Regions from separate parts of the Homo sapiens genome. Here all the other regions are linked to region 1. Evidence: fine-mapped expression QTL. A gene starts in region 1. Each other region holds a variant in brackets. All regions are shown on one strand. Distances are between the middles of the regions. Region 1 holds the start of TMEM18 (transmembrane protein 18). Region 2 overlaps LALTOP (lung cancer associated lncRNA targeting TOP2A). Region 3 overlaps LINC01115 (long intergenic non-protein coding RNA 1115). Region 4 overlaps LOC105373358 (a long non-coding RNA gene). Region 5 overlaps LOC105373358 (a long non-coding RNA gene). Region 6 has its middle 44 kb from the start of LINC01874. Region 7 has its middle 21 kb from the start of TMEM18-DT.

Region 1 (4,341 bases):
CGGGAGGACAAGCAGGTGAGGAGCACGCAGAGCGCGTGGAAGGTGGCCAGCCCCATGAGCCAGGGCTCAGTCCAGTCCGTCTGCTGTAGGAACACACCAGCAGACACTCACTGTCCTGCCACTCAAGGCCGGGTTCACGGCCCACCCACAGCCTTCTCCCAGCGCAGGAGGCAGGGGCCTCTCACTCCTGAGTCCTCCTGGGCTACTCACCAAGTATCCAGAGAGCATTGCCAGGCCTCAGAGAAACATGGGGACAGGAAAGGGAGAAGGAACCAGGAGGATGGAAACAGGATTCTCCCCTCAGTGCAACTATAATTCATGGAATTCAAAGTTCAAGCACACAGAACTGAAGGCATCTCTGATGTGCTCCTTTCGTTTGTGGAACAGAATCATGTTTTTAAGGTGGGTATAATTAAAGGAATTACCATCCTTTACGATGATAATTGGTTATGATAATTGGTGACGACAAGGAAATTAAGACGATTGCTCAAAGAGATGCACTTGGCTCAGCCCCAAAGGTAAAACATGAATCATCATTTCAGACTCCTTAGTCAGCACTGAAGACCTCAGGGAATCTTGAGCCATCGCCACGTGCAAGACTTGATTTTCTCCAACCTCTCTGCAATACACTGAACTCTCCAGACAGTGCCGCACTCCGCCGCCTCCTGGACTCCCCGGGACCCTGCTGTACCTGGGGACAGTGTCTGGCTCAGGGACCTGAAGTAGCCAGGCTCAGATCCACTGCTGCTCAGTCCCCACCTGATGCTCAGATGCCAATCCCAGCAGTCCTCAACCCTCCCCATCCCCTCCTTGAGCGCCCTCCTGCAGAAGACAAGCCCTGCCCTCCAAGCTGCAGCCCCGCCCTGCCCTCCAAGCTGCAGCCCCGCCCTGCCCTCCAAGCTGCAGCCCGGCACAGCCCTCCAGAACTCCTGTGTCACTACTCTCTGCTGGGGACCGCAGCGGCTTCTCCAGAGCCGCGCCATGACATAAGGACACAAGCGCATCTACTCCCATCAATGCACCCACCAGAAGACCAGAGGCACGGAGGTGAGGGGAGCACGGCTTTCTGCCCAGACCCCATCGAGTGCCCATGTCACCCCTTGGCGGCCACGTGGGGCGTGGGCTCCCCTGGGATCTGTCAGACGAACCCGGCACGGCGCACGCCCCGCCCACACTGGGCAGCGTTCCTCCGTGCCACCCCACACGATCAGGCTCCACCACGCACGCCCCGCCGCACTGCCAGAATCCGCCCACATGGCCCAAGCCCCGCCCGCAAGACGCTGGACTGGCCGGCGTGCACCTCCCACACGAACAAAGCCCTACCCCTCGCGCTCCGCCCACACAACTCAGCCACGCCCGCACGGTGCAGGACGCCAGCCCAGCCCAAGCCCGGGCCACAGAGCGCCGGAGCCAGCTCACTGCGCACGCTCCTCCACAAGGCCCCGCCCGGCCCCGCCCCTCCCCGCCCAACGGCCCAGGACCCCGCCTAGCGCTCGCGCCCCGACGCCCGGCCCCGGCCCCCTCCCACAGGGCCCAGGACCCCGCCCACAGCGCGCGCCCCCGACGCCGGCCCCGAGCCACTCCCACAGGTCTCAGGACCCTGCCCAGCGCGCGCGCTCCGCCACAAGGCCCCGCCCACGGCCGGGGCCTTCTTGGCCACAGGCCGGGTGCTCTGTGGGGCCTACCCTACGCCTCTCCGCCGTCCTCCCCCGAACTGGTGGTTACGCGGGCCGCGAGTTACCGTGAGCACGGCTGGGATGCTGACGGGGAAAGAGCTGACAGAGAAGGCGGACGGCATGGTGTTGGGAAGCCCGCTCTCACAGCAACCGCCGAACCCGGCCTGGCCAGAATCCACAGAGGAGGGCGCCAAATCCTCTCTCGTGAGATCTGCCCTTCTCACGAAACTTGCGCTTGCTTCCTCTCGCGGTAATTTCATGGCATTGCTAGGTCCAGATATCGCGATATTTCCTGGTGGTCGCTGTAATACGGAAAACTTACTACGCTGCTGTGGGACTTGTGCTCGCTCCGCCAGGAGGCCGAGGGCGTCTTTAGTTCGTTAACAGAGGAGCAGGCGGAGGCGGGTGGAATTTAGGAGGTTTGTTTCAAAGGCTCAGGGCGCTGTACCGCCACGCCAGCCCTGTCCCACCTGGGACTCCCTAGAAGGGTCAGAGCATCAATGAGGACGGTGTCCGCCCCGAGACCCTGCAGGAGCCGGGGACATTGCCCACTCCTCGGACCCTGCAGGACTTGGGAAGGTGTCTGCTCTCGCGACCCTAAGGGCAGTGCACTCTTAGTCTGGGTCAGCTTAGGGTTATCTGTCTTCACTTTGGAGATTTACCAGATGTTCTTACGCTTCACTTCGTTGTTCAACGACAGATACAAAAATATAAAGTTAATTTTCTTCCAGCGAATTTTTTCCCTTTATTTTAACATCTATACCCCAACTTTGACATTTTCAAATTAAACATTCTGTTATTTTAACATCATGAATTATTAAGTGTATATACTTTAATTGCATATGTTAGCTCTTGAACTAGTTTAATGTTTCTAAAAATAGTTCTAGTGGTGGACTTTTTTTTTTTTTTAATAGCTTTAACCCCTCCCAGATCTTTCTTAAAATCTTTCCACAGTGTGGTCATTTCTGCTTATGCTACTTAACATGCATTCTCTCATTTCAGTGTAGAAGGTCATGGTTTCTTCTTATGGGAAAACATTTCTTTCATTGATATTTTTCTCTATTCTTCCTGTATTCAACTCCAGGAACATCCCGTTAGGTAGATAGTGCATCTTCCTCTCTTTTGTGTTTCTCAACCTTCCTCTCAAAACATCACGACTGTTGTTGCTGAGTTTGGGAAATCTCGGGCTTGGCTTTCCTGGTTTTTTTTTTTTTTTTTTAAGACGATGTCTCGCTCTGTCGCCCAGGCTGGAGCACAATGGTGGGACCTCGGCTCACTGCAACCTCCGCCTCCTGGGTTCAAGCTATTCTCCTGCCTCAGCCTCCCGAGTAGCTGGGATTACAGGTGTTCGCCACCTCACCTGGCTAATTTTTTTTGTATTTTTAGTAGAGACGGGGTTTCACCATGTTGGCCAGGCTAGTTTTGAACTCCTGACCTCAAGTGATTTACCCGCCTGGGCCTCCCAAAGTGCTGGGATTACAGGCATGAGCCACCGCACCCAGCTGGTGTGATGGTTTTCATCTGTGTCCATTCTCACTCCCCTGTGTTTGTTCAGCTATTTTCAACAGGACCTTTCAGTTACAGGGAATAGATCTGTCCTCTTCAGTTCAGCCTGTTACTGTGTATCTCCCTGATGATATTTCGTTACTATGTGAAACATCACTCTTATTAATTTCCATGGGTTAGTTTCATCGTCAGTCCTGTCTGGTGCCTGCCTTTCTTTTGTGGTGTCTGTTTTCTTGTAACTTCTGTAATTTGGGGTCAAACTCTTTTTGCTATTAATATTAACCACAGCCTATCTACGGTCACTGGGATTTTTTCTCTTCATCTTCCCCTCAGCCGCCCTCCCAGATCTTTCATATATTGTGCGCCCTGGCACCCAAGTTTCCAAAATTGTTAAAACTCTGGCCCTCAGCAGCTTCACTTTCAGTCCCAGGACATTCATCTTCCACATTCCTCCCGCCCTGCCGTTCTGAACAACGCTAGGCTGCCGGACATTTAGACGTGAAGCTTGTGCAATGTCGCCAGTCTGAGATGTGCTTTAATTTCAAACATACACCATCTTTCAAAGACTTTGTACCAAAATGTAAAATACATTATCAACAATTGTATTATTTTGCTTACATGTTGAAATTATATTTTGGACATACTGGACCAAATAAAATATATCAATAAAATTAATCTCTTTCTCTTTGCTATTTTAATGTGGCCAGTAGAACATGGCCTGCTCTCTCTGTTGGTATGTGAATGCTGACATGGACTCTATTCCATTTACCTGGAATTTTGTGCTTCCAGAAAAGACTGGATGAAGCCCCTCCCCTCCCTTCCCCTTCCCTCGCCACCCTTCTCTTCTCTTCCCTTTCCTTTTTTTTTTTTTTTTTTTTTTTTTTTTGCGTTTTGCTCTTGTTGCCTAGGCTGGAGTGCAGTGGCAGGGTCTCGGCTCACTGCAACCTCTGCCTCCTGGGTTCAAGCGATTCTCCCTGCCTCAGCCTTCCGAGTAGCTGGGATCACCGGCGTGTGCCACCATGCCAGGCTAATTTTGTATTTTTAGTAGACACGGGGTTTCACCATGTTGGCCAGGCTGGTCTCGAACTCCTGACATCAGATGATCCGCCTGCCTTGGCCTCCCAAAGTGCTGGGATTACAGGCGTGAGCCACCACGCCT
Region 2 (4,341 bases), 930 kb after region 1:
AGTCTGTTGGCTCATATAATGCAAAGCTCCTGGGCAGGCTCGAAATGACAGCTGGGTCCAGATGTTCAAAGTGTGTCTGTAGGTCCCAGACTCTCTTCCTTTCTCCCTCGCTCCTCTCTCTCTCTGAAGTTTGCCATCTCTTTCCCATCTCTAGCCCCACATCTGCACCAGCTTCTCCCCTCCACCTTTCTGCTCCTTCCGGCTCTCTTTCCTACTCTCATCCTCATTGCCTTCACCTTCCGCACAAGACCCCTCTCCACACGTTGGCTCCCAGCAGATCCACATGCACGTTAACCTGAGTGTTGGCTGTCCCAGTAGACAGGGGTCTTCTGCTTCCTAAGACTTCCCCAAAAAATCCTGGATAAAAACTTGAACCACCTTTGGTGATGTGCTCTTCCTGGAGGCATAGCAGGGGCGAACATCCCCACCATAGCAACCTGGACTGAGAATAGGGGAAGACTGAAGTGTAGCTGCCAGGACACAGCCTGGCGGAACTGGGCACCCCGGCTCGAGGAGGACTCAGGCCAGGCATTCTTCGCAGAGATCCAGGTGGTAGAGGGCAGGGAGGGAAACCAAGGCATATCAGAAGGAACCCCAAGGAGGGCAGAGCAAGTCCGAGAATGCTCACAGCAGGCAGAGACCTTTCCCAGAGAGGGAATGAAGGAAATTTTGGGGAGAGAGGCCCTTGGGGTTGACCATGAAGGACAGGAAAGATGAGGATGGGCTCTGAGGTCACCCCAGCCACCAAAAGCAACAGAAAAGACCCCTGTGGCCTCACATCCTGTGCCCACAACAGCAGGGTTCTCTCAACCCACGGAAGTTCCCTGTGGACCAATCCAGATGCAGGTGCAGTGTGTAGGAGTCTGGGCAGGCAGAGAGGAAGGGAGCAGTGAGAATGCACCAGAGCTGCTTGGCCAGTCTTCTGGTTTGTCCAGGGACTGAGTGTTGCTGATAGTTGAGGCCACATTCATTTTTGAGATCTGCAGATGTTAGATGTTATTGATTTCTAAGTGCAATAAAGTTGAGTAGCACTGATCTAAAATACTTCCCCTCAGTCTGGCAGAAATACAGCCATTAGGGTTTGATTTAGAACCATCATTAGGAAGAATAATCAGAACACCAAGATCCTTTCTTTCCCAGCACAAGCAGGCTCTCGGCCATCGGGCATGTCATAATCTTGGAAGGTAAAACCCAAGCCCATGGGCACGAAAAAGTACTTCTGGGGAATTTTAACAGGAAACATTCTCCCTCCCTGCCTCCACCCTTGGAGACACCACTTCTGCACGGTGGTGCTTTTCAGCTGGGGAAGGTGAGTCAAGAGTTTGACTCATTGAATGATTCTTATCCTTCCCTAGTTTATGTCCGATAATGGAGAGGGGATGATTAGTAACACAGATGCAAAAGCAGCCCTGCCTTGAACCACTTCTCAGAGACAAGTTCAGGCCAACTCTGCTCTGAACACAGATCCAGTTCCATCTCAACTCGGAATAAAGATTCCCAGTCCAGGTAAAGGGCACTCATCATCTTCTCACCATTGCCTTCGTAGAAAGCACTTGCAAATGCACCTGCCACAGCTTCCAGCCTCACAACTGCCCTTCCTCTCCTTCCGCAGGATGACACCCATCCCCTGGGCGAATGCCCCATGTGCCCTGGAAAACCACATGTGCAGTTGTTGGGTGCAGTGTCACATGGATGCTGATTGGATCACGGGAATTGGCAGTACTTGAAGATCATCTAGGTCTTAATTTTTTTTCTAGTTATTTTATCAATTGCCGAGAGAGGAGTATTAAAGTCTTCTGCTTTGTGAAAAAGTCTATTTCTCCCTTTAATTCATGTAATCATAATTACACACTGGTAACTTATGCCTTCCTGATAATTTTTCCTTTTATTACTATGAAATGTCCTTCTTTGTCTCTGGTAATATTATTTGTATTCAGTCTGTTTTATCTGGTATTAACATAGCCATCCAGTCTTCTGTGCTCAATGTTTCCATGGTATGATTTTTGCCATCTATTGAACTTCTACCTATGTGTATCTTTAATTTTAAAGCATGACTCTTGAAAACAATACTGGGGTTGTTTTTATTCGCTCAGTCTCCTTTTAAATTATTTTTAATATACAATGTGTAATTATTAATTAATATAATGTCATCGTGGATACAATTTGGTTTAAAATTACCATTTTTTTCTGTGTGTCTGTTCTGCTTTTGTTCCTCTGTCTTTCAGATTAAATCTTTTTAGTATCCCATCTAAATTTATATTGCATTTTGCTGTATCTCTTTGAATCATTCTTTTAACAGCTGCTCTAATTATTGCAATAGACACATGTCATCTTTCACAGTTGGCTTGGAATTAATCGGACACCACTTCCTGTAGAGTGTGGAAAACCTGCAGCTCCACAGTCCTCCTCAGTGACCTTCCTGTCATGGATGTCAGGTGTTTTACATCTGTGTATATTGAAAACCACGCCAAACAGTATGAATGTTCCTTTCCACGCTCACAAATTTTAAATAACTAAGAGAAAAAGAAGTAGTCTTTTATATTT[G/T]TTCTGATATTTACTGTTTCCACTTCTCTTTCCTCATTCCTAAATATCCAAGTTTGCCCTGGCACTCTTTTCACTCATGCTGAACAAGTTCCATATGAAGACTTTCACTAGGCCGGGTCTGTTAGTGACAAATTCTCTGTATTTTGCTAAGGTCATCTGGAACTAAATGTATTTTGCCTTCGTCAGATGGATTTTGTTGTTGTTGTTGACAGTCTCCTAACACTTTCAAGCTGCACCTTCATGTGCCGGTTTCTAGAGAGAAATCCAGTCACTCAAATCATACCTCCACTAAATGTAATTGTGCTTTCAGTTTTAACGCGAAATGTGGAACAGATGGAAACCTGCTTTCTTTGAATTTTAAATTATATGCTTACTGGCTAAGAAACACAGTAAAAGTAGCTATTTTTTTTGTAACCTGTGAATGTCAGAGAGACGGAGGAAGTGGTTCTTTCCTAACGTTGCTCAGCTGTGCCTGCTGAGGCTCGCCGGAGTGCCTTATTTACTGATGCTCCAGACCACGCCCATCTGCTACAGCCACCCTGTCCCCAAAGCACAGGACATCCGCTGGCCCCTCCAGTGCAGCCCGCCACAGCTGGGCCACCACAACTGGACACCCACTGGCCCCATATAATGCAGCCTGCCACAGCTGGGCCATCACAACTGGACACCTGCTGGCCCCTATAATGCAGCCTGCCACAGCTGAGCCACCACAACTGGACACCCACTGGCCCCATATAATGCAGCCCGCCATAGCTGAGCCATCACAACTGGACACCCACTGGCCCCTGCAGTGCAGCCTGTCACAGCTGAGCCGCCACAGCTGGACACCCGCCGGCCCCTGCAGTGCAGCCTGTCACAGCCGAGCCACCACAGCTGGACACCCGCTGGCCCCTGCAGTACAGCCCGCCACAGCCGAGCCGCCACAGCTGGACACCCGCTGGCCCCTGCAGTGCAGCCGCCACTGAGCATCACAACCGCAGTTGTCCACCGAGATCCAAACCCCGCATGGTCCTACCTGAGGCTTCAAGTCACGCTTCTTCACTCAGCCAAAGGTCTGTGCACGCGTCGTTCTGGCCCCCAGATTCTGCTCCTTGAGATATGTGGCTGTTCCTCAACACTGGGGGAAGTTAAAGCCTGAGTTCAAAACCCATCGAGGCAGAAGCTCAGAAGTCACACGAATGAAGATCGAAATGTAATATTATTACCGACAATTGATAGCGAAGAAAATGGCTTCTTCCTGGTTGCCTGGTGAGTGTGTTAGAATTCCCTTCCTCCACCCTGCGTCCCTCAGTCTAGATCCTGGGACAGTCCACCTGAAGGGCAGCTTGGGTCCACAGAGGTGACCTGTATTCATGATATTTGCCTCCTACCATCCAGAGAGGAGAAACAGAGATGGAACTCTTCTCTGATGAACCCCACCGAATGAGCAGGGTCCCCAGCTGCCTCCTGTTACTGGGGAGGGGGAAGGATGAGGCCCAGAGCCCACCGAATGAGCAGGATGCCCCAGCTGCCTCCTGTTACTGGGGATGAGGAAGGATGAGGCCAGGAGCCCATCGAATGAGCAGGGTGCCCCAGCTGCCTCCTGTTACTGGAGAGGAGGTAGGATGAGGCCAGGAGCCCATCGAACGAGCAGGGTCCCCAGCTGCCTCCTGTTACTGGGGAGGAGGAAGCATGAGGCCAGGATCCCATCGAACGAGCAGGGTCCCCAGCTGCCTCCTGTTACTGGGAAGGAAGAAAGATGAGGCCAGGAGCCCACCGAATGAGAAGGGTCCCCAGCTGCCTCCTGTTACTGGAGAG
Region 3 (4,341 bases), 120 kb after region 1:
GAAAGCCCTTGGTAAAAGAAAAACTTCAGGCAAATTAAGTTGAACAGAGTTTAACCGAGCAATGATCGGGCAGCCTTCCCAGCCGGAGGAGGCTCAGAGACTCCAGCGCAGCCGCGTCGGGGAGGAAGATTTATGGACAGGGAAGGGAAAGTAACAGACAGAAACGGACGTGAGGGACAGAGACAGCTGGACTGATTACAGCCCGCATTTGCCTTATTTTAACAGGGTTCAAACAACCGGCTACGTCTGAGTGGCCAAATCTCGGTGATTGGCGCAAGTATAGGCTACAGTCTGTGTACAACTCCGCTTAGGTTATAGCTCACCACGTACAGAGAAACCTCTAGGCCGAACTTAAAATATGTAAGGAGGCAGCTTTAGGCCACACTTGATTTGACACCCAGGAGTGGGGGCCCTCCACTCCCTCAGGCCCCTGGGAACAGGCCTTGGGCACCCTCCCTGCTCCCGCACAAGGCCTGACTCCAGGCAGTCCTGAGGCCGCATCCTGCACTGCGCTGCGGGATCCTGGCTGCTCTCTTCCCGCCTGGAAGACTTTGCACAGCCACGCATCCCTACCACTACCCAGGGATCCCGGGAAGCGAGCAGCCCAGCAGCTGTGGGAAACACCAGCCCCTACAACCTTCCTTGAAAGCTCTGCCGGGGCCGGCTGCTGTAGTGGGGACTTCAGTCTGGTGAGTCAATATTACGTTGCGTGGAACGTGAACATGGACGCCACTCCGTCCGGGATTCAGCGCAGCGGCACTCTCTCTGCTCCACTATTAGGAAAGACGTGCCTGGAATAAGGAAAATCATTCCTTTTTTTTTTTTTAAGGAATCAAGGGTCATGGGCTCCCCTTGGAAGTAGCTTGAGGCTCCATACGGCTGACAGTGCCAGCTGCACCCCCAGGAAGGTGTGCTTGCCTTTGAGTTGGGTGGGGTACATCTAGAGTGGGGCTCTGGAACCCGGCTGCTGGGGTGACAGCCCCACACAGCCCCTGAGGCTGTGAACCTGGGTGAGTGAGCCAGGCCCCCTGCAGCTGCCTGCACCCATCCGGCTGTTTCTGGCTCCTTCTCACCTGATGAGTTGGTGTTGAGCCCAGACCAGTTATGACCTAGAGGGAGGGGGAGGCCTTGACTGTTCCTACAGAGCCCAGTATGAAGTAATTCTCAAAATCCGACTGTTTTAATGTTTGAATGTATTTGAGTGTGTTTAATTGGTTCAAAATTTAAAATAAAAAATAAGTAAGTAAAATCCCACCTTGTCTACTTGTTCACCCAGCAACAGAACTCCCTGTCTGAAGTTAATTGCTTTTTCTGTGTCTTCTGGATGATCCCAGAAACAGTCCATCCATGTGCAACAAATAACAGCAAATAGCATCCATGTATATGTGTGTGTGTGTGTGTGTGTGTGTGTGTGTGTAGTCCCCTGTTTATAGACAGGGAGGTGCCCCTGCACACACACAGTGCACAGTGCATACTACATGTATATATGTGTGTTTATATATATATTCCCCTGTTCATAGACAGGAAGGTGCCCCTGCACACACACAGTGCACAGTGCATGCTACATGTATACATATATGTGTGTATATATATAGTCCCGTTTATAGACAGGAAGATGTCCCACGCACACAGTGCACAGTGCATGCTACATGTTCTGCATTACACCTGTTGTATGTTACACACTGTATGATACAGCATATTGTTGAAACTGGAGAATTCTCTGAATTCCCCTCGCAGGACATACTACAGGAGTGTGGCTCACCTGTTTGGCCACCTTGCAGCTCAAACCCCTAGCAGGAGCATGCAGAGGGGCAGGGGCAGAAGCTGGGGCAAGGACTTTGGGCTCTTGGCCCTGCAGTAGTTTCTAGAGGTGAGTGCGTGCAACCCCCGTGTCACAGAGCTCTCTCAGCTTGGCTGCCTGTACATGGCTTGAGTGTTAACCAGCTCAGCAGACCTTCTGCCTTATCACAAGGGCAGAGAGCCAATGGGACAGCCTTCTGTATCCCGAGCTCTTGTCTAGCGTCCTGGAAGAATCGAATCACAAGCAGGATCGAAGGATGAGTGCAGGGTTCTGTTGAGTGGTGAAGGTGGCTCTCAGCAGATGGACGGGGAGCTGGAAGGTGGAGGAGCGGGGGAGATCATCTTCTCCTGGAGTTTGGCTGTTG[T/C]CAGTGAACTCCTCTTGGTGTTCAGGTGCCTCTTCCCTCCTTCTCTGCCGGGCCACAGTGTTGCTCTCTGCCTCTCTCCACCGCTCTCTGCTGCTCTCTGCCACTTCTCTTGACATTCAGCAGTTTGTGTGTCTGCCTGCTAAGGTCTCGGGTTTATATGGGCACAGGATGGGGGGTGTGGCAGGCCAGAGTGGTCTTGGAAATGCAACATTCAGGTGGGAAAACAGAAGTGCCTGCTCTCACTTAGGTCCATGGACACAGGCCCGAGGGTGGAGCCCTCACTGGGAGCCTGCCCTTCTCTACCCAGCCCTTTCCTGCCCCTCCTGTATCATCGTGACCTACATTGTGCACTGTCTATTATATGTTGCTTATAACGTATTATTTATATTCTGCTAATGTTTTCCAACTTTAATTCTTATACACACAAAAACACATGATGCACACAATCTAAAATCAGGTTTTATCACTTAACCATATATCTTGAAGATTATGCCTTACTAGTATAGAGCTTATCATTCTTTTGAAAAGAAATGTTATTTTCCATTGAGTAGGTACGGCCTTGTTTATTTAAGCAATGCCTTATTGAATTACTTATAAGGTATTTAATTATTTTTTAATACATCAATCTATATACTTTATACATATGTGATAACATATATCTAATAAAATTTAAGATATCAAATTATCAGGTCAAAAGAGTAGGAGCGTTTTATCTTTAGTGTCTAATTTTCAAATGCTTTTTATAAATGCTAAGCTGGTTTGCAATTCTACCAGCAATGTGGAAGAGAGCACACATCTTTCCACATTCTTAATGATCCAATTATTCCTAATCCTAGAGGCAGAAATCAAAAATCATAATTCATGATTTCAATAGTTTTCTTATTTTTAATTAAATTAAGCATCCTTTAGAGCATTTGTACTCTGTTTATTGTCTCATCTTTTGGCCATTTTTTCAGTCGGATTATTGGTATTTTTATTACTGAATTGTAGAATCCATTTAATCATTTAAAAAATGTGCTTTATGATAGCAACGAATTTCATGATTTGTCCATTTCCTTGGAACCATGACACTTTTAAAATATTGATCAAATTATAAATTTTAATTGTTCTACTTATAGTAATACTTGGAAACATTTCTCATTCTGAAACCATAAGAAAATATCTTCATGTTTTTTGGTGCTTATATAGTTTTAGATTTTACATTTAAATATTTGATTCGAAAACAGTTTATTATGGCATAAACTGTGAGTAAATGATTTAACTAATCTTTTGTTAAAACCACAACCATATTCTTTGCTGCAGATGACAGGGCTTGTTAATACCATGCTTTTTCTCTAAGTTCGAAATCCAACTCTGAAGTATTCCGGGCCAGGGTTTATTTTTCTTGTCCCCGCCATGCTAACATTTGTGTTATTCAACTGCATAAAGCACTGATAATTAAAGAGAAACCTTTTGAAAACTAAAGGAATTTATTTTGCTATTTACTAATTTTTATAAGTTATTTAGTTGAATAGGATTGTTTCTAAGTTTTAGGTAAAAATTAAAAAATAAATAAATAAAATAAAATAGGGGGGAGGAGCCAAGATGGCCGAATAGGAACAGCTCCAGTCTGCAGCTCCCAGCGTGAGCCACGCAGAAGACGGGTGATTTCTGCATTTCCATCTGAGGTACCGGGTTCATCTCACTAGGGAGTGCCAGACAGTGGGCGCAGGTCAGTGGGTGCGCGCACCGTGCGCGAGCCAAAGCAGGGCGAGGCATTGCCTCACTCGGGAAGCGCAAGGGGTCAGGGAGTTCCCTTTCCTAGTCAAAGAAAGAGGTGACAGACTGCACCTGGAAAATCGGGTCACTCCCACCCGAATATTGCGCTTTTCCGACGGGCTTAAAAAAAGGCGCACAACGAGATTATATCCCGCACCTGGCTCGGAGGGTCCTACGCCCACGGAGTCTCACTGATTGCTAGCACAGCAGTCTGAGATCAAACTGCAAGGCGGCAGCGAGGCTGGGGGAGGGGCGCCCGCCATTGCCCAGGCTTGCTTAGGTAAACAAAGCAGCCCGGAAGCTCAAACTGGGTGGAGCCCACCACAGCTCAAGGAGGCCTGCCTGCCTCTGTAGGCTCCACCTCTGGGGGCAGGGCACAGACAAACAAAAAGACAGCAGTAACCTCTGCAGACTTAAA
Region 4 (4,341 bases), 32 kb after region 1:
CCTAGCTGAGAAATTTATAAACTGATAGTGGAATTTCTTAAAGACATTTTAGATAACAAGGGAAACATCATGTTTAATGTGGCAGAAATTCAGCCCCTGAAACATTGTTTAACAAATCACCAGCTGAATCTTATCATAGAAAAACAGATTTATTTTTCAGACAGTTTTGAGAGGTATCTAAAATTCAGTACGTGTGCTGAACCTTCGAATGCTTTTGAAGGAGTTTGTCTGCTGAAAAGCTAAATAGCATCAAACTTAAAAGCGTATTTCTCCTGACATCAGGATGTCGGCTGATACTAGCCAGAATGAAATGTGTTCTTTTCCAACATTTTCAGTCTATGGGCAAGACTTGAGAAAACAGCAGTGACCTTTCTGCCTTCAGCTACCTCAGCAACCCTTTGTCCTATCTCTTTGCAATCACATATTTTTTCCAATATGTGATTCTAATAATTACATCTTCAGTGTTGCTGAAGCAATTTGACAAATAGTAATTAGATTTCAAAAGGATAGTTCATTTCATAAGGATAGTTTGGCATCATGATTTCTAATGATAAATACAACATAAAGTTTCTAAAATGCTGATGAAAACACAAAATCTAAGGCTATTTCATGCCTGATAACTAGAGCATTAATCATCCCGTTAAAGATATGTGTATGCATAGATACATACGCTTAAGGTGCGGGTCCCTTCAACAGGCCCAAATATTTACGTGCCTGTATTACAAGCTGTTCATTCATGGATCACAGAATGCTCAGTTCTTGAAAACTAGTGGTGGAAAGGACATCATTTAAACTCATTCTGACCTGGCCTTGAATCTCACTTTTGCAGCTTAGGGGCTTCTGTTATCTTGTAGGAACAATGGGAGTCCTCCGGGGAAGAGCTTCCTCGTCTGGGTCCCCCACGCAGAGCCTGCATTAGCCCTGAGTGGGTGGGTGCACACTGTGAGCCCTGAGTGGGTGCACACACGCGTCTCACACGCAAACCAGGCCGCAAAGGAAAAACCCGGACTGAGCTCCGAGTCCTGCCTGAGAGCTGCTCCTGGTTTCCCGGGCAGGCAGGAATCTCCAAGCCTCCTCCAGGGTGATGGGGAGAGGCCAGTCAGCGTTTGCTAACTGCAAATCACGGGTGGGAACGACCACAGCATAAGCAGCGCCTGGCACGGTGCCGAAAGCCAAGTTGAGGTGATGAGCCACGGGCTGGGGGATTTGAGGGGAGACGGTGCAGGGAACCCACAGAGCAAGACAGGGCCATGTCCCCTGAGCAAAGCCTGGAATGGAGACAGCACCTCTGGCCTCGCCCCGCCCGTGGCTGAGCCCCGCTGGAGAGATACGGGGCTGTGTGTCGTGGCTCTGGATGGAAATCCCTCTTTCCTCCCTTCCTGACTCGGTCTTTCTAACAGACGGCGCTGGCCCTCCTGCTGTGTTATCTCAGTGGCACTGTTTGTTCTGAGGCGTCTTCATGTTCCTCCTTCCCGTGCAGCCCTGGGCATTCCTTTACCATCAGCAGATTCCACGCTGTATTTTTATACACACTGTCGTGTAAAATACACACAACACTTGCCATTTTAACAATTTTGAAGTGCACCGTTCAGTGACAATAACCACATTCACGCTGTGGTACCGCGGACACCTCTTCCATCTCCAGAACCTTCCACCTTCTTCTTCCCCGGAAACTCCGCACCCATTAAACGAGTTAAACGACAGCGCCCCCTGCCCACCCCCCAGCCCGGAAGCCCTCGCTTTACCCTCAGTCTCTAGAAACTTCACTGCTGTAGATTCCTCGCAGAAGTGAAATCCTGCAGCGTTTGTCTTTTTGTGACTTGGCATAATGTTTTCGATGTTTTTGGGTTGAATCCATGTGGAAGCATGTGCCAGCATTTCCGTGCTTTTTAAGGCTGGATAACATTTCACCATCTGTGCGCCCCACACCGTGTTTACCCGTTCATCCAGCGATGGCTCCTGGGTTGATGCCACATTTCCACTACTCTGCGTGGTGCTGCCAGAAGCAGTGGTGCACGGATCCCTCCTATCTGAATCCCAGCCTTTGGTTTCCATTGCTATTTGTTGGAATATACCCAAAAGTGGAATTGCTGATCATATGGTAATTCTGTTTAGTTTTTTGAGTCTTCACACAGTTCTCTACAGTGACCAACTATATTATATTCCTCTCCATACAGTTTCCTACCGTGACCAACTATATTATATTCCTCTCCATACAGTTTCCTACAGTGACCACATTATATTATATTCCTCTCCATACAGTTCTCCACAGTGACCAACTATATTATATTCCTCCCTATACAGTTCCTTACAGTGACCAACTATATTATATTTCTCTCCATACAGTTCTCCACAGTGACTAACTATATTATATTCCTCTCCATACA[A/G]TTCCCTACAGTGACCAACTATATTATACTCCTCTCCATACAGTTCTCTACAGTGACCAACTATATTATATTCCTCTCCATACAGTTTCCTATAGTGACCACACTATATTATATTCCTCTCCACAGAGTTCCCTACAGTGAACACACTATATTATATTCCCCTCCATACAGTTCCCAGCAGTGACCAACTATGTTATATTCCTCTCCATACAACTCTCTACAGTGACTGGACTATATTATATTCCTCTTTACACAGTTCTCTTGGTGACTGCACAGTATTATATTTCTACCATGAATGCTTAATTGTTCTGATTCCTCCACAACCCAACAAACGCTTGTCATTATATGTTTTGTCTGTACATTTTTAAATATTAGCTGTCTTACTGGGTATGAAAGTTTGTGTGTGTGTATGAAGTATATTTTATATCATATTTTCATTGCTTTTTTTCTACCCTAATAGATTGAAGCTCAGATTCAAGAATCATCTCCATGTGTACCTGCCATAGACTGAACGTGTCCCCCAAATCCACAGTTGGAAACCTAATGGCCAAAGTGATGGTATTAGGAGGTGGGAGCTTTAGGAGGTGATGAGGTTTTGCTGGTGGAGCCTCATGAATCATCATGATAAGATTAGTGCCCTTATGAAAGGGACCCAGAGAGCTCCCCTGTCCCTTCTGCTGTGTGAGGACACAGGAAAAAGGCACCGTCCGGGAACTGGAAAGCAGCCCTCACCTGACAGCAGATCCACCACCATCTCGATCTCGAACCTCCAGCCTCCAGAACTGGGAGAATAGGTTTCTGTTATTAGAGGCCACCACGTTTATGGAATTTTCTTAGAGAAGCTCAAATTCACTAAGACAGTGTTCTCACACATTGCTTATGCATTAGCCCAAAGACTGGCACTTAATGTACATTTTGCTAAATGACATGACATAGAATGGAAGGCAAATTTGTCCTGTGATGATTTAGGTATACTGAGAATATAAAGACCTGTTATTCTGATGAAAGTAGTCAAAGTAATGTACCTTTTACAAGTGATGATGTAAGCATTTATGACAGAAAATTTCAAGAACATGGGAGTAGACAGAAGCATAGTGAACTCCTGTGTGTTTAACTCCAGCTTCAGCAACTATCAGCTTGTGTCCCAGGTGGTTGTATCTATACTTTCACAGCCCCAAAAGGACATTTTTGGGCCAAGGAAGAGAGACCTCCTTCCCCGTGGTTAGCTGAGTGTTTTTATAATATTGAATTTTGTCAAATGTTTTTTCTGCATCAAGATAATTTTTTCCTTCTTTTCTTAATGTAATGTGTTACATTCATCGATTTTCTGAGGCTGAACCACACTTGCATTTCTGGCATCTGTCGCACTTGTGCAGGGTGTAAAATCCCTTTAACATGTTGTTGAACTTGGGTTGCTGCCTTTGTTGTAGAGTTTCCGAGTGTTTACATTCATAAGAGACACTGGTTGGCAGTTTTCTTTTCCTGTTGTGTCTTGTCTGGCTTTGGTGTTGGGGTAATGATGGCTTCACAAGATGGGTTAGGAAGTGTTCTCTCCTTGCGTGTATTTTGGAAGGAGATTACTTTGTTTGAGGATTGGTATTAATTATTTCAATGTTTTCTAGAACTAGCCAATAAAACCATCTGGTCCTGGCCTTTTGTTTATTGAGGAATTTTTGAAGACTGAATCGATTTCTTTACTCCTTATAGGTCTGTTCAGATTTGTATTTCTTCTTGAGTTGGGCTTGGTAATTTCTGTCCCCAGAACTCTTTCCATTTCCCCAGGACACCTAATTTGTTGGCATACAACTGTTTCCAGCATTCTCTTATGATCCTTTCAACATCTGAAAGGGTGGTAGTAATGTACCCACTTTTATTTCTGTATTTGGCTATTTACAGCATCTCTCCTTTTTTAGTCAATGAGCTAAGGGTTTGATAATTTTGTTTATTCAAAAAA
Region 5 (4,341 bases), 39 kb after region 1:
AAATAGCCACATGTGGCTGGTGTCTCCTATACTGGACTGCAAAGGTCTAGAACGTGTCTGGTGTCTCTGATGAGACAAAGAACTCGGCTCTTGCTGGTTTCTTCCCAGCGATGGCAGAGTTCACTTTTCACTGGCTAAGGCAAGTCAAATGCCCCGGCACAACCTCAAGGGGGCAGAAGAGTGCAGTTTTAACAGGTGCCCAGAAGAAGGAGAACCGGAAGCATCGCTGGACATCAAGGATTCTGCAAAGCAGAGAATAAACCCCAGATTGCTTAGGGGAAACCAGCTGGGTAGCGGTTTAATGGTTGGAGGAGCATGGTCAGGGCAGTAAGTGAACACAGTACCAGGGGAATTTGTAGAGAAGAAATGAGGACCCAGGGTGAGAAATTGTTCAAGGCCAAAGACAGAAGTCGCTGGTCTCTGTCAACACTTCATCCTCAGGGCCTGCCTGCATGCTCAAGGGACCCTGGTTGCATGGCTGTGCAGGTGGCCCGAGCTGCCCAAACCTTGCTCTGGCACAGAGGCAGGCCCGTCAGGCGTGTTCCATCTCCCTGTTGTGTGACTATAAGAGAATTACCTGAGACTGGGTAATTTATAAGAAAAAATGTTTATTTAGCTCACTGTTCTGCAGGTTGAGAAGTTCAAGGGCCTGGCCTTGGCTCCCTGTGAGGGTTTCTGAGCTGGGTCATAACATGATGGAGAAGGTCAGAGGAGAAGTGAACAGATGTGGAGAGGACCAAGCAGAAGGAGAATCTGCACCTTGTAACAACAGTTCCAGTGGGAGCCAGTCCAGTCTCTGAGAGTGAAGCCACACTCAATACCTCACAAAGAAGGATTCAGTCCCAGGACATAAACACCTCCTGCCAGGATGTAAACACCTCCCACCAGGCCCCACCTCCAAACACTAACACATTGAGGATCACGTTTCACATGGAACTTGGTGGAGATGGCAAACCACGTCCAAACCACAGTCAGCTTCCTCACCTCCTGCAGTGCATCCTTGGCTGAGTTTACTCAGTATACCCAGGATGCTCATGTCCACTCACCAGATCTTCCATCTCATGCACCCTCACCTTCCAGATGCAGCTGCAGTAGTCCTCACCTCCACCCACCAGATCTGCTTCCATCCCATGCACCCTCGCCTTCCAGATGCAGCTGCTGTGATCACGTCCACCCGCTAGATCCTCTTCCATCCCATGCACCCTCACCTTTCAGATGCAGCTGGAAGCATGTGAAGCATAATAAATAAACTCAACTTAACCTCGTCTCTTATTACATCAAACCCCCGAGTTGGTGGTGTAAGTTGCCTAATTCTGGCTTTGGATCCCAGCTCCATTGCTTTTTTACTTGACCCTGCGTGAGTTCCTTAAGCTCCTGTGTGGCTTCAGGCAAAGTGTCTGGCCTTCCTCGGTCTTGCTTGGCACATTTGTGAGCCGAGTAAAATATATTATAAACTATTAATCCATAGGGAACAATGATCATGGTGTATTTTATTTTAGCTTTTATTTCAAAACACGATTAAGGAATGCATAATTTTCCTTTAATCATTTGTTTATATCTTTTCAACTTACTTAGATTTATTCTCTATTAACTAATTTTTGTTACTATTGTAATAATCAATAATTAGAAAAATAACCTAGCCATCACTGATTATTCGTGGGATTCAGGAACCCAATGATTTCCCTGAGAATCACCTTGCTGTAGGGACTGAGGGGAATTTTCCTGTTACTGAGCCTGGCCACTAGATGGATGCATGACCACCTCACTTTAGCTTTCTCGACTTTCAGTCCTAAAAAGACTTACAAGGATTCTGCACCTTTTCTCCCACCTCCCCCGTTCCTTGAATGGTGAATTTCTATAACATTTGATAACTGTTCTTTTAATAATTCTTGACCCTTTCTGTGCTTTCATTTAACCTCAAGTCTAGATTATTATTCAAATTGACTCATTTGGTAAAAATATATTGGGTATCTATCATGCAGCAACAGCTTAATGGGATCCCTCGTGAAGCCGTCAAGTGCTGAAGCTGTGAAAGCTGGGGCCGGCGGATCGGGTCGGGACTGCCGCTGTGATCACTTTTAGGCCAGCGTCAGCAGAAGCCTGTGTGATTGCAGGCAGATCTACGCTGTCTTTCAAACG[T/C]GGTGACACCGAGGTACAGCGTGGGGGACACGCAGCAGGGTTAAGGGTGTGGGGGGAGCTTGTTCGTCCTCCTTGGAAACCATGACACGGGGAAGGGGATTTAGGCCTCCTCAGTTCCACACTCCTCCTTTCTAGAGGCCAAGGCAGCCCTTTGATCAAGGTCACATTGCTCCTTAGAGGCAGCTCAAAAGCAGTTTCAGGAGGGAGCTCTCCACGTCTTTTTAGAGACAAATCTCCTCCGTGTGAGGGTCTCTGAAGCGGCAGGGTCCGTGGGGCCAGTGAGGCTGACTTCGTGGCTGGGCCCCCACAGTACAGCCACGATGACAGGGATGGGACAGCTGCACAGAGGTCAGTGAGCCCTGGGGATGAGGGGAGGAGGAGGGGAGGCCTTGGGGTGGGAAGGGGTTCCTGAAGAAGGTTATTCTAGGTGGGGCCTGAAATAACTCCTTCTACAAATGAAGAGGCGACAGGTGTGGGATAGAGGGTGGAAGGGGCAGACCATCCCAAGAAGACACCAGGACACTGAAGTGGCTGCTGGGGTGGGTGTGTTGGGTGGTGGAGGGGCAGCAGGCCCTGGTCATGGAGATGAGGCTGGGGATTAAACAGTGGCTCTGTCACAAAGGCCTTCTATGCCATCCTTGCACGTGTGAATTATTTTTTTCAAAATGCAATGGAAAAACTTATTTTCAATCCTAAATCTTGGTCTATTCTATGGTTTAGAAGTTTGGAGACTTACCAGAATACTGATTTATTACCAGCAGTAGGCTCAGGGATATATTGTGGGAATGCTTATGACCTTTATTTCTTCAGGAAAATGAAGTGAATATGAACATTATTAAATTTTTGCCAAAGGTTTTTTTGCCAAAAAAACTTTTCTCATTGAAGAGAGTTATAAATGTTTGCTTGAAAAGTATGTGTGCATTGATTGGTCATCTATAAATTAGATTGGATTTTTCAGCCCGATTTATTATATTGGTTACTTCACAAGGTCACACTGCCTTGAATATTATTTTGCCATAGCAACACGAAGGGGCAAGACAAGGAAGAGGATGAGGAGGAGGAAGAGAAATAAGAGGCGTCAACATCAACCCCCTCCGGTGTCAGCTGGTGAACGTCATCCACGTGGTTGGACATTAAATATGAGCCCTTTAGGAAAAGTTGGGGCCATAAATACATTATTAATACCTATGTGGGTGGGCCAAGTAAGTGACCCACATGTGATACTGGAAACTGAAAAGTGGAAGATGAAAAGAGCTTGTGTGGTGGGGAGAGGAACAGAGTCTCCATAATCAGAATGCTTCAGGGGCTGTCATGCTGGAACATAAATTAGTACACAATTTTGATAGAAGACATTTTGAATGCATTAGAACAACTTTAGCATGGTTCCTACCATGTGCTCAGCAATTTAACAACCAGGCATTTTACCAAAAGAATAAGCATGCCAACCTAAGCAACATAATGAGACTCTGTTTCTACAAAAATAAGAAAAAAATAGCCAGGCATGGCGGCGTGCTCCTGACATCCCAGCTTCTCAGGAGGCTGAGGCGGGAGGATCGCTTGAACCCAGGAGGTCGAGGCTACAGTGAGTTGTGATCACACCACTGCACTCCAGCCTAGCTGACAGAGTGAGACCTTGCCTCAAAAAAAAAAAAAAAAAAAACCATGTACGGTGAGATTTTGTAACAGAGGCGACAATTGATCAAGTGTTTATTTAGAGAAACTATTGGAAATGAAATATTAGAAATAAACTAAATATTCAAGAACAGGCAATTATCAAAAATGTTATGGCATATGCATAAAATGAAATGCCATGAAATCATTATGTATTATGATGAGAGAAATATGAAAAATTAATGAAACATAGTTATCATGCCCTAGTTGTTCTATGTGTCACCATTCTATGGCATTACATTAAGGATGCCTTATCTTTAATTTTAGTTTTCTATATATTGAAGTATCATTTACATAAAGCAATGACCACAAATTTCAAACATGAAGCTCAGTGGATTTTCCCCATATACACAACTGTGTGCACACTACCTGGGTATAGATACTAAACACATCTACCACAAAGGCTGATCCCTGCTCCCTCCCAGCCAGCAGCCCTGGGAGCAAACATCACCACAACCTGTTCTGAAGATTCATTTCACTTCTATTTTGAATTTCATATGAATACATATCTTATGTTATCATATGTATTAT
Region 6 (4,341 bases), 230 kb before region 1:
GATGTATTACAGTCGTGCCATTTGAAACTTTTTAATTTTTATCAGTTTTTACAGCCAAAGTTGAAAACATTACACTAGAATCATAAAAAAACAAAAGTGTTAAAAGTAACAGTTTTTTAAAATCAGTGTAACAATCCTGGGTCATTTGCTGAAATCTGTTAAAAAATGTATATGTACTTAGGAAATGCAAAACTGGTGAAAAATAAATGTGATTGTTGAAGAGGAACCAGCAGCCGTTGCTCCGTTCAGGTCGGAGCCCCTCCCTTGGTCCCTTGTGACCTCCTAGGAGCGGCAGGTCAGAGACCCTGTGAACGTCCTTCAGGGCTGGCACCTGCCCCACTCAGACATGGGGAGCACTAGCAAGGTGGTGGCCAGGAACCACACGCACAGCAGTTAACTGGCTTTTACTGATTGTTTAGGTTAAAAGTTCACCATTAATTACAAGTAACTGATAACATGCTGTTCATTTGTGAGCTGACAGCTAAGCCTTTCCCCAGGCACAGCTGGTGGCTGAACTGAACAGAGGCCCTAACCGTGTCACTGTGGCGAAGCCAGACCACTGGCCTGGGACAGATTTGTTGTCTTTCACCTCCAATTTCGTGCTGTTTCGTGTTTCTCTTTCTTCCCTTCAGTTCTCCTAGATTGCTGTCCTCGAGTGGCCACTTGGTTCCCTTCGTGATGCTGCGGCTCTTTAGGAAGCATTTCCGGTTCTGGGCTGACTCTATCTTGGAGGGCCCTTCCTTGATTCCTGCAACCAAGTAGGAGTGGACTCAGGGCCAGCTTGCCAACCTTGGGAGATGCCACTGGTGTCCCGAAGCCACTGTGTCAGGTCTCACAGCCTGTCCATTTGCAGGAGACACAAAGCCTGGCACCTCACCCACCACCAGTGCAGACACAGCCACACCCGGGCTCTGCCTTAACAGGCAGGGGAGGGCAGTGCTGTTAGGAGCAGTGGGATGACTGGGCCACTCATCTGAGCTTGCCCTTACTATGGACCTGGACCTTGTGGCAGGTGTTGGGTGTCCTAAGTATCCTCTAAGAACAATGACAAATGTCCATGTAAACTCAGGGTTCACTCTGCGTCCAGCAGCAAGAGCGTCAAGTGGGCCTTTACAAGTCCATTGTCAAATATCCACTATGCGTAAAAATTGCCTAAGTCCTGCCTGTCACTTGCAAATGGAAAATGGCCGGCAAGTTGAAAGAGAGGGCATGCCATCTGCTTCACAGGCACGAAGATGATGACGGGAGGCCCCAGGAGGAGGCTGCTCATGAAACGCTGGGTAAAAAAGTCTAAGAAGCTTTCGTTTCAGATGGTTTTCATTTATCAGAGATTCAGTGCCAAATTACACCATAATTTTGATTGAAAAACCCTTTTACAGAAAGACAAACAATGCTTGCTCTTTATAGTCGTGACCCTGTGGTCTGTAATTTAGTTTTTCTGAGCCTCATCTGCCAAAGAGTGATAAAATTCTGCTGTGGGTCTCATTGTGGTTCTCAACTTCCAGCTCCTTCCCTGCCCAGCAGATCACACGTTAACCTCCTTCACCAATACCAGTGGGTATTAAGAGCCCAGATCCAGGGATTGCCCCTCCCTGATATTCAACTTGAGTTATGCTAAAGAGCGTGGGGTAATTAACTCATGCCGTCACCCCGATGAATCAGATTCTCATTCTTTTAATTACTACCCACAGGGTGGCTTTAATGTGTTATTGTCTCTGTTGGACATTGAACGAAGACCTCATTTGCATTTGGTATGTTATTATGTTATTAATGTGCAGAAGATAGTTGCTATGTCTCGGAGTGGAAATGGAAATGACATTAAGATAATATGATTTTAGGCTGATAAGAGAACATTTTTCTCGTTTATCTCACTTTTAAAATGAAGTGCTGGCCCCAGAATGCAGCTCTGGGATATGGATTTTTAGCATAGCGTTACATGATCAATTTCCACTATATTTCCTGGGTGCTGTTGCATGGACCATTGTCAGTTGCTTCAGTGTTGATGCAACTTATATACCCTCGTTTTTCTCCATTTATATAATGGGTCCGTGTTGAAAGCCAAAGCTTGCAATTATTTTTCAAAGAAATATATTTTCATGGCCAAATACCCCATTTGGGAATAAATGTTAACACACTGAATTTTGATCTGGTGTAACTGGACATGTGATTTGG[G/C]ATTTGCATATTAATTTATTCATATAAAACATTTATTGTGATATTTCTATATATAATGATCATGCCCAGTACTAGCAACACAGGGATCAGTGGTTGTTACCCTCAATCATTTCACAGCCTACAGCTGGGTGTCTCGGTTCATAGCCTATAGGCCAAATGGTGTCTGGTTCATAGCCCATAGGCCAAATGGTGTCCATTTCCTTTGCTGAAGGTAAAACCTGCAGGTTGTGCACATGTACCCTAAAACTTAAAAGTATAATTAAAAAAAAAAAAGCAACACTAGCCCTCTGTGCTTAAATAATGAGACTTGTTCGTCTGAATGGTCATGATTCTTATCATGGGAGGGGACACCGTCATCAGCAGAGGTCCCTCTAGCTTGTGCAAGAGCAAATTGCAAGACCCTGAGGGCCAGACTGCCCTGGCTTTGGGTCTGAGCCAGTCCTTGGCAAGGAAACATGCCCACTGATGGTTCTCCTGGTACTGCCAACATTTTTGTTTTGATCAGATGTACAGTTTCTATAGAACTGAAAGGATAGCCTTAAAATTACTCTTGAACACTTCCCCATGAGTGAATCTCCACATTTACAGTATTTCTGTTTGTCATTGGCAGCAGTCTGCGGGAGAGGGAAGGCCAGGCGGCTTCCGGCTGATGACACCCGACACCTTGCAGCCCATGGAGGCTGCACTGCCACTGCCTTATTCATTATGGGCTGTTGGCCTTCTCCATTTGTGTAGGGAAAAAAATTTGCTTTCTTTACTTGCATATCAGCAATGCTTGGCATAAATTTGGCATTTGGTAAGTATTTGTTCAGTGCATGAATGTGTGGATGGCTGAGGTGTGTGTAATCAGCTCTAGGTGGAAAAGCAAACTTGGAGCAGTGCTAGCATTCCCATTGGTGGTCCAAAGCCTCTGCTAAAGTGACTGTGCTCCTAGGTAACTTCAAGTCTTCCAAATCTTATGATTGGAGGGCAGGTCTTCACTGCTAATGAAGACAGACATTCCAGGTCTCTATTCTCTGCCTGCTTCCCACTAGAAGAGTGGGGAGGATTGCTGTTGAATCTGGGTGCTGGAGGATGACACAGAGCAGGTGGCTTTGCCTCTGAGGCTCCACTTCAGCGGTGGCCCCTCCAAGGCGGTCACCATCGACAACATAGAATCTAGGGTGTCCAGTTGTGAAACAGTCGGTTAAGAAAAACTGCCCCCTTTAGAGTTTCCTTTCTACATAGAATTATTTTTATTTGTATTGGTAGTTCAAAACATAATTTTATTTTGTTCTTGGCATACATTTCGTAAAGAGTGATGGAGGCCTGAAAATAATATATTACTACAAATCAGACTATTACTACCTTAACACTTTAACTATAGATTAAAAACTTATAAAACATTTTCAATTGCTTTTATTGTGAAAATATTTGTCACATTTCTTTCTACTGCTGAATGCACTTAACTTTAAGTACCATATGTTTTCAATAATTTCAAAGGCGGGACTTTCTTTTAAAATACATTTGGTTCATGTCGTTCCAGAAAACTGCAGATTTCATAGACACTGCACACCTGGAGCTCTCCTGTTGGCACAGATACAGCCTGAGCATGCTTCTCAGCAAACACCCCCACTCAGTGACAGAACTGTCCTGGGGCCTGCAACTTCTTGCTATTCCGATTCTGGGAGTCTGCGATGGCTGTGGTTGCAATCTGGGCTGAGACTGGTGGTCAGGCTGCCCGGAGCACCCAGGTGTAACTGCACGGGCACCAGACGTGGAGCTGGGACACCTGGGGACTCCATGTGCTGGCTGGGGACTCCATGATCGATCTCCCAAGTCAGGCAAACGCTGTTGGCCTCGTGTGCAATCAAAGGCCACTGTGCTAGGTGGCCACTAAATTCAACTCTAGTTCGTATTCTTTACATTTAGTGTTTTATCTAGTCTTTTCATTCATTAAATTGAGCTCTGAAATTAGTCTGAAAAGTGAGAATTTGTACTAATTTTCCTTGCTAGTGACTCTTGAACCGTCACCCTCCATAATGATTTTTGCTTTGTAATAGCCACCCAAAATAGTACCCCATGCATTATTTTTCTTTTTACCTTTTTGATAATATATGTTGTTATGATTATTGATGATCAATTAGCATATTTATTAAAAATTATTTTAAAAACTAGAAAATCATCCCA
Region 7 (4,341 bases), 22 kb before region 1:
TCTCGTACCCAAACCATGTTTCTCCATGAGGTTCTTAGATTCTCCTCCCAAGCACCCTTTTCCAGCACAAATTTATTATTTCCCTGCTGTGCTGCAGCCCCGGCTCCTCCTGGCTTCGTGCCTCACACACCTGCCGCTGTCTCCTGACCGGGTCGCAGTGTCAAGTTCTTTACACATGTGTACGTGCAGAGCGGACACACAGACACCGGAGAAGGTGGGAACACATGTGGATGTGCAGAGCGGATGCACAGACACTGGAGAAGGTGGGAGGTGGGGAGTAGCTGAGGGCTGGGGAATTGCCTGTGGGATATGATGCTCACTATTCGGGTGACAGCTGCCCCACCTTCACCACCACACAATCCATGCGTGCAAGAAATCTCCACCCATCCCCTCCAAGTATATAAACATATGATGAGAAGGAGAAACACTCTACACAGAGAATGTGACCCAACCTTGCTTCTCTGTCCACTTCCTGCTCAGCTGGCACACAGAGTAGAGCATGGGCACCTCCCAAGACCACCATGGCCTCCTGGTGAGGAGGCAACACCACGGGCTTCCAGATCTCCTTGTGTGTTCCTCAAACTCTCCTTGCCGCTGAGTGTAGGACGCTGTTTTCTGTCTTCGGTGCTCGCTCTTCTGACATCAGAGATTGACAGCACTGAGTCAGGAAGGAGAAAAGGACTCTGGCTTTGGGCCACGACAGCTCCAGATCCCATACCAACATCACTGTGGACTGCAGAATTTTTCATTTTTCTGGAAATCTCTTTTTTCATCTAAAATATGGAAATAATATCATTTACCTTACAGGGTTGTTGTGATGAAATGGTTCACTCAAAACCACTTCCCAGGAGGTTTCTGATGTAAACATGGCTCCCAGCACTGGGGCACAGGGAGGACAGGCTCTGCCCTCGGGATGCACACCTTCCAGTGTGCATTTAAGGAAGTGCAAGCGAGTTCATCAGGGAGCAGAATGAGTTTAGATAAAACTTCTGTAATATAATATAAAGTGGGGCTTCTGGGTGGAGATGAGTGGGTGACACTTTAGATGGGGGCCCAGGAAGTCCCCTCTGAGGAGGTGATGGCCGTGCAGAAGCAGATCAACATAAGCCTCAGCCAGAGGCACGCTCTGAGCAGAGGCGGAAGCCTGCTGGGGCCACTACGAGGAAAGACACTTGTTCTACAGGATCAGTGCGGGTGCAGCACTCTGAGTAAGTTACCATCCTAAAAATGAGGCTCTCCGTGGAGGCCACGTCACAAAGGTTGTCATACACGTGGTGCAGGCATTGGGTTTTATTCTGAGGACCTAAGAGCGATGGAAAATTCACCACAGCTCTGCACAGGCAAAGGAGGTTGTCAGATGATGAGATTTTCTAAGTGAAGTATTTGAGTCTCACAGAGGAACATATGTATTACACATCAAAGTTATAAAGCCTAAGAAAAAATGAACACTGTGTTGTCTATGGCAAGTAGAACATTGTCAAACCATTAAAATATACCTGGACACTCCTCCCCCAAGAGAAAACCACATAATTAATCACACAGAAAAAATCAGCAGTGGCTGATTGCATTTTCCAAAGACGGCACAAGACAAGCCCTCATCACACTTGCTCCTTCACAGTGGGACTCTGACTTTGACACACCTACCAGGATATGGGGTGCCGTGTCCCTGTCCTGGGTCCCAGGCAGTCTTTGTGACTTCCCCTGTGAGTGGGATGACATGGGATGAAAAAGTGATGCACCTTGTTGTCTTGAGACTTTTGTTCTTGGAACCAGCCACCTTGTTGTGAGGCAGCCCAAGAGGCCATGAGGAGGCCTGTATGGCCTGCCCTGCCATGGCCCCAACCCACAGCCCTTGCTGCTGATCAACACCAACCAGCTAGTCACAAGGGCAAGTCCATGTGGAAAGTGAAACTTCCTGCTGCCCCAAGCTGAAGTGTATGAAGCAAAGGCAAGCTGTCTCCTGGGATCTCTGCCCAAGTTACAGATCTGTGAGCAACACTGTGACTGCTGCTGTTTTCATTAGCTGAGGCTTGAGGTTGTTCATCACAAGGTACTAGTAAGTAAAAGAGATTTTGTACCAAGACTGGGGTGCAGCCATAAGAAAACCCAATGCATGTGTCCTTAGTGCTGGGAAGTGAGAGGCACCTGAGGGCCTTAAGTGTCTGTAACAGGAGATGTTCTAGATTTTCCACATTAGGGATG[A/G]AGTGCTGCGATTACTTAACTGTTTAGATAGTCTTTATTAAGTTACAAAAGTTTTCCTTTTTTCCTACTTTGTCAATAGTTTTTGCTCGATTAGTTCATTTTGTTTTTCAGTTCATGAGTTTTGAATTTTATCAAATGTTTTTTTCTGAAGCCATTGAACTCTTCACAATTGTAAACTGAGTTATGTTGTGTTTTCTCTTCAATACACAGCTGGGTTCATTTTCTTAACATAGGCAAGTTTTCCATCTGCATTTATAGAAGTTTCTATGTGTTCTTTCTTGTGCTTCTCTTGTCTAGTTTGAGAATCAAGTTTGCCACAATAAACTTAAATAATGGACTTGGTTTTGTGTGTATGTTTTTATTTTTAAATTTTATTTAAAACATTATTTTATATATATATGTATTTATTTTTTAAGTTTTTTTCTTTCTTATCTTATTTTGGATTGTTTTCTTTTTCTGTTTTCTTGTCTCTACAGATTTGATGGTTATATACTACATTCATATTTCTTTAATAGTTACTTAACAAGGCCTGAAGTTAATTAGTATCTGTCTTAACTCAGACTGCTCTAACAAACACCACAAACTGAGGGGCTTAAACACCAAAAATTTATTTTCTCACAGTTGTGGAGGCTGGGCACTGAAGATCAGGGCAGGAAGGAGGCACCCAATTTGTTTCCTGTGAGGGTTTCTCCTTGTGTTCTTCTAAGTCGAGAGCTCAGTGGTGTCTCCTCTTATCAGAACACCAGCCTGATGGGACCATGCCCCGCCCGGTGACCTCCTTCTACCCTGATGATCTCCTTATTGGAGCCACCACCAAATACAGTCCCACTGGTGGCTAGGAATGGACGTATAAATTCTGAGAGCACACGATCCAGCCCATAGCAATATCTGTAGTCTTCTCCTAAAAAGTAAAGAATAAAGAGCTTGAACAATTAGATTATGTTCAATTGTGTTCTCCTGAATTATCGGTTACTGCTGTCCAGTACTTTATCTTTCTCTCTCTCTCTCAAATGCATGTTATTATTATAATATCATTAATGTCACAATCATCATAATTTTCTGTAATGTGTTTTAGATTTAAACAAATAACCAATTCATTTTCTTCCATAACTTCTTACTTCTTTTACTATCACCTGGTAAAAGGAGGACATCTCTTAGTAGTTTCTTCAGGGAGTCTGTGTGTAGTAAACCCTCCCAATTTTCTTCAGCTGAAATGTTTTAAATTTGTTCTTATTCATGAAATATAATTTTACAGGGCACACACATCCAGGTTGACAATTATTTTCTATCAGCATTTTAAGGGATTATTCCAAACTTCTCTTAACTTTTAGTATTGCTTTTGGAGGTCTGCAGTCTACCGAATTGTCATTCTTATTAGACAGTGCCAAAGTTTTCTCTCTGTCTTACATATTTTACGTTTAGACTGGTTATTCTCAATTTTACTCCAGTATGTCCAGATGTATCTTTGTTTTGTATTTATTCTGCTTGATAGACAGCATGCTTTTGTAATCAAATTGTTTACTCATTTTTTTGCAAATATAGTCTCTCTCTAATTCTTCTTGTTCTATCCTATTGTAATTACATTCAATATGTACTGAATCTTCTCACTTTATCAACAGAATTTTAATAAACCCACATTTTTCATCTTCCTTTCTCTGTATTTCTCAACAGCCTCCTCTATGGACCACATGGCTGGTGCTGCAGGGAGGATCTGGGTCACCTCCCTGCTGGCCGCTGGGTCTCTACAGGCCTTGCTGAAAACCTTCCTGGGTAAACACCTACAGCTTGCATAACTTAGATCCGATGGCCCACAGGAGAGATTGCAACTGGGTGACCACGTGCCAGGGCGCCACATCAACAGCACTAGGAGCTGCCTTGGGGATGTAGGCGCCTTCCACGGGCTTTTCCAGAAACCAACTACAGGAATATTTTTAGAAATAGAGGTGTTCTCAACAAACAGAGTGGAACTAGTTAGATAAAATTAATCATTAGTGTATAGATCTCTGTAAATGTCTAAGAAATTATTATTAACTTAAAGCACTATTCTTACTAAACCTCCATGTTTTATGATGGAAACATATTATTTTTTCTGAAATGGTGTGTGGATTATCATCTACATTTCAATTGAGACATAAGCTT

Evidence for each region.
Region 2: its variant is fine-mapped to the expression of TMEM18 in tibial artery (GTEx, PIP above 0.99).
Region 3: its variant is fine-mapped to the expression of TMEM18 in gastroesophageal junction (GTEx, PIP 0.99).
Region 4: its variant is fine-mapped to the expression of TMEM18 in thyroid (GTEx, PIP above 0.99). The same link has a PIP of 0.9 or more in aorta, esophagus muscle, lung, pancreas, spleen and testis.
Region 5: its variant is fine-mapped to the expression of TMEM18 in prefrontal cortex (GTEx, PIP above 0.99).
Region 6: its variant is fine-mapped to the expression of TMEM18 in skeletal muscle (GTEx, PIP 0.98).
Region 7: its variant is fine-mapped to the expression of TMEM18 in prefrontal cortex (GTEx, PIP above 0.99).

What each region holds. Positions count from the first base shown.
Region 1 is chr2:675,548-679,888 of GRCh38, forward strand. It overlaps TMEM18 (transmembrane protein 18), which reads right to left and starts at 1,859. Exons shown (of 5, transcript NM_152834.4): 1 at 1,742-1,859; 2 at 1-83. The coding sequence starts at 1,798. It overlaps TMEM18-DT (TMEM18 divergent transcript), which reads left to right and starts at 1,825. Exons shown (of 3, transcript NR_183417.1): 1 at 1,825-1,926. RefSeq lists enhancers at 1,134-1,899, 1,802-1,901, 1,932-2,001 and a silencer at 1,392-1,641.
Region 2 is chr2:1,606,860-1,611,200 of GRCh38, forward strand. The region is part of intron 4 of LALTOP (lung cancer associated lncRNA targeting TOP2A); the gene reads right to left. Among named protein-coding and RNA genes, the nearest start is that of LALTOP, 16 kb to the right of the region's middle. The variant G/T (reference allele first, on the strand shown) is at 2,545.
Region 3 is chr2:795,809-800,149 of GRCh38, forward strand. The region is part of intron 2 of LINC01115 (long intergenic non-protein coding RNA 1115); the gene reads right to left. Among named protein-coding and RNA genes, the nearest start is that of LINC01115, 70 kb to the right of the region's middle. The variant T/C (reference allele first, on the strand shown) is at 2,166.
Region 4 is chr2:707,640-711,980 of GRCh38, forward strand. All of the region lies in intron 2 of LOC105373358 (a long non-coding RNA gene), which reads right to left. Among named protein-coding and RNA genes, the nearest start is that of TMEM18, 32 kb to the left of the region's middle. The variant A/G (reference allele first, on the strand shown) is at 2,388.
Region 5 is chr2:714,302-718,642 of GRCh38, forward strand. All of the region lies in intron 1 of LOC105373358 (a long non-coding RNA gene), which reads right to left. Among named protein-coding and RNA genes, the nearest start is that of TMEM18, 39 kb to the left of the region's middle. The variant T/C (reference allele first, on the strand shown) is at 2,140.
Region 6 is chr2:446,878-451,218 of GRCh38, forward strand. No RefSeq gene overlaps it. Among named protein-coding and RNA genes, the nearest start is that of LINC01874, 44 kb to the right of the region's middle. The variant G/C (reference allele first, on the strand shown) is at 2,173.
Region 7 is chr2:653,951-658,291 of GRCh38, forward strand. No RefSeq gene overlaps it. Among named protein-coding and RNA genes, the nearest start is that of TMEM18-DT, 21 kb to the right of the region's middle. The variant A/G (reference allele first, on the strand shown) is at 2,203.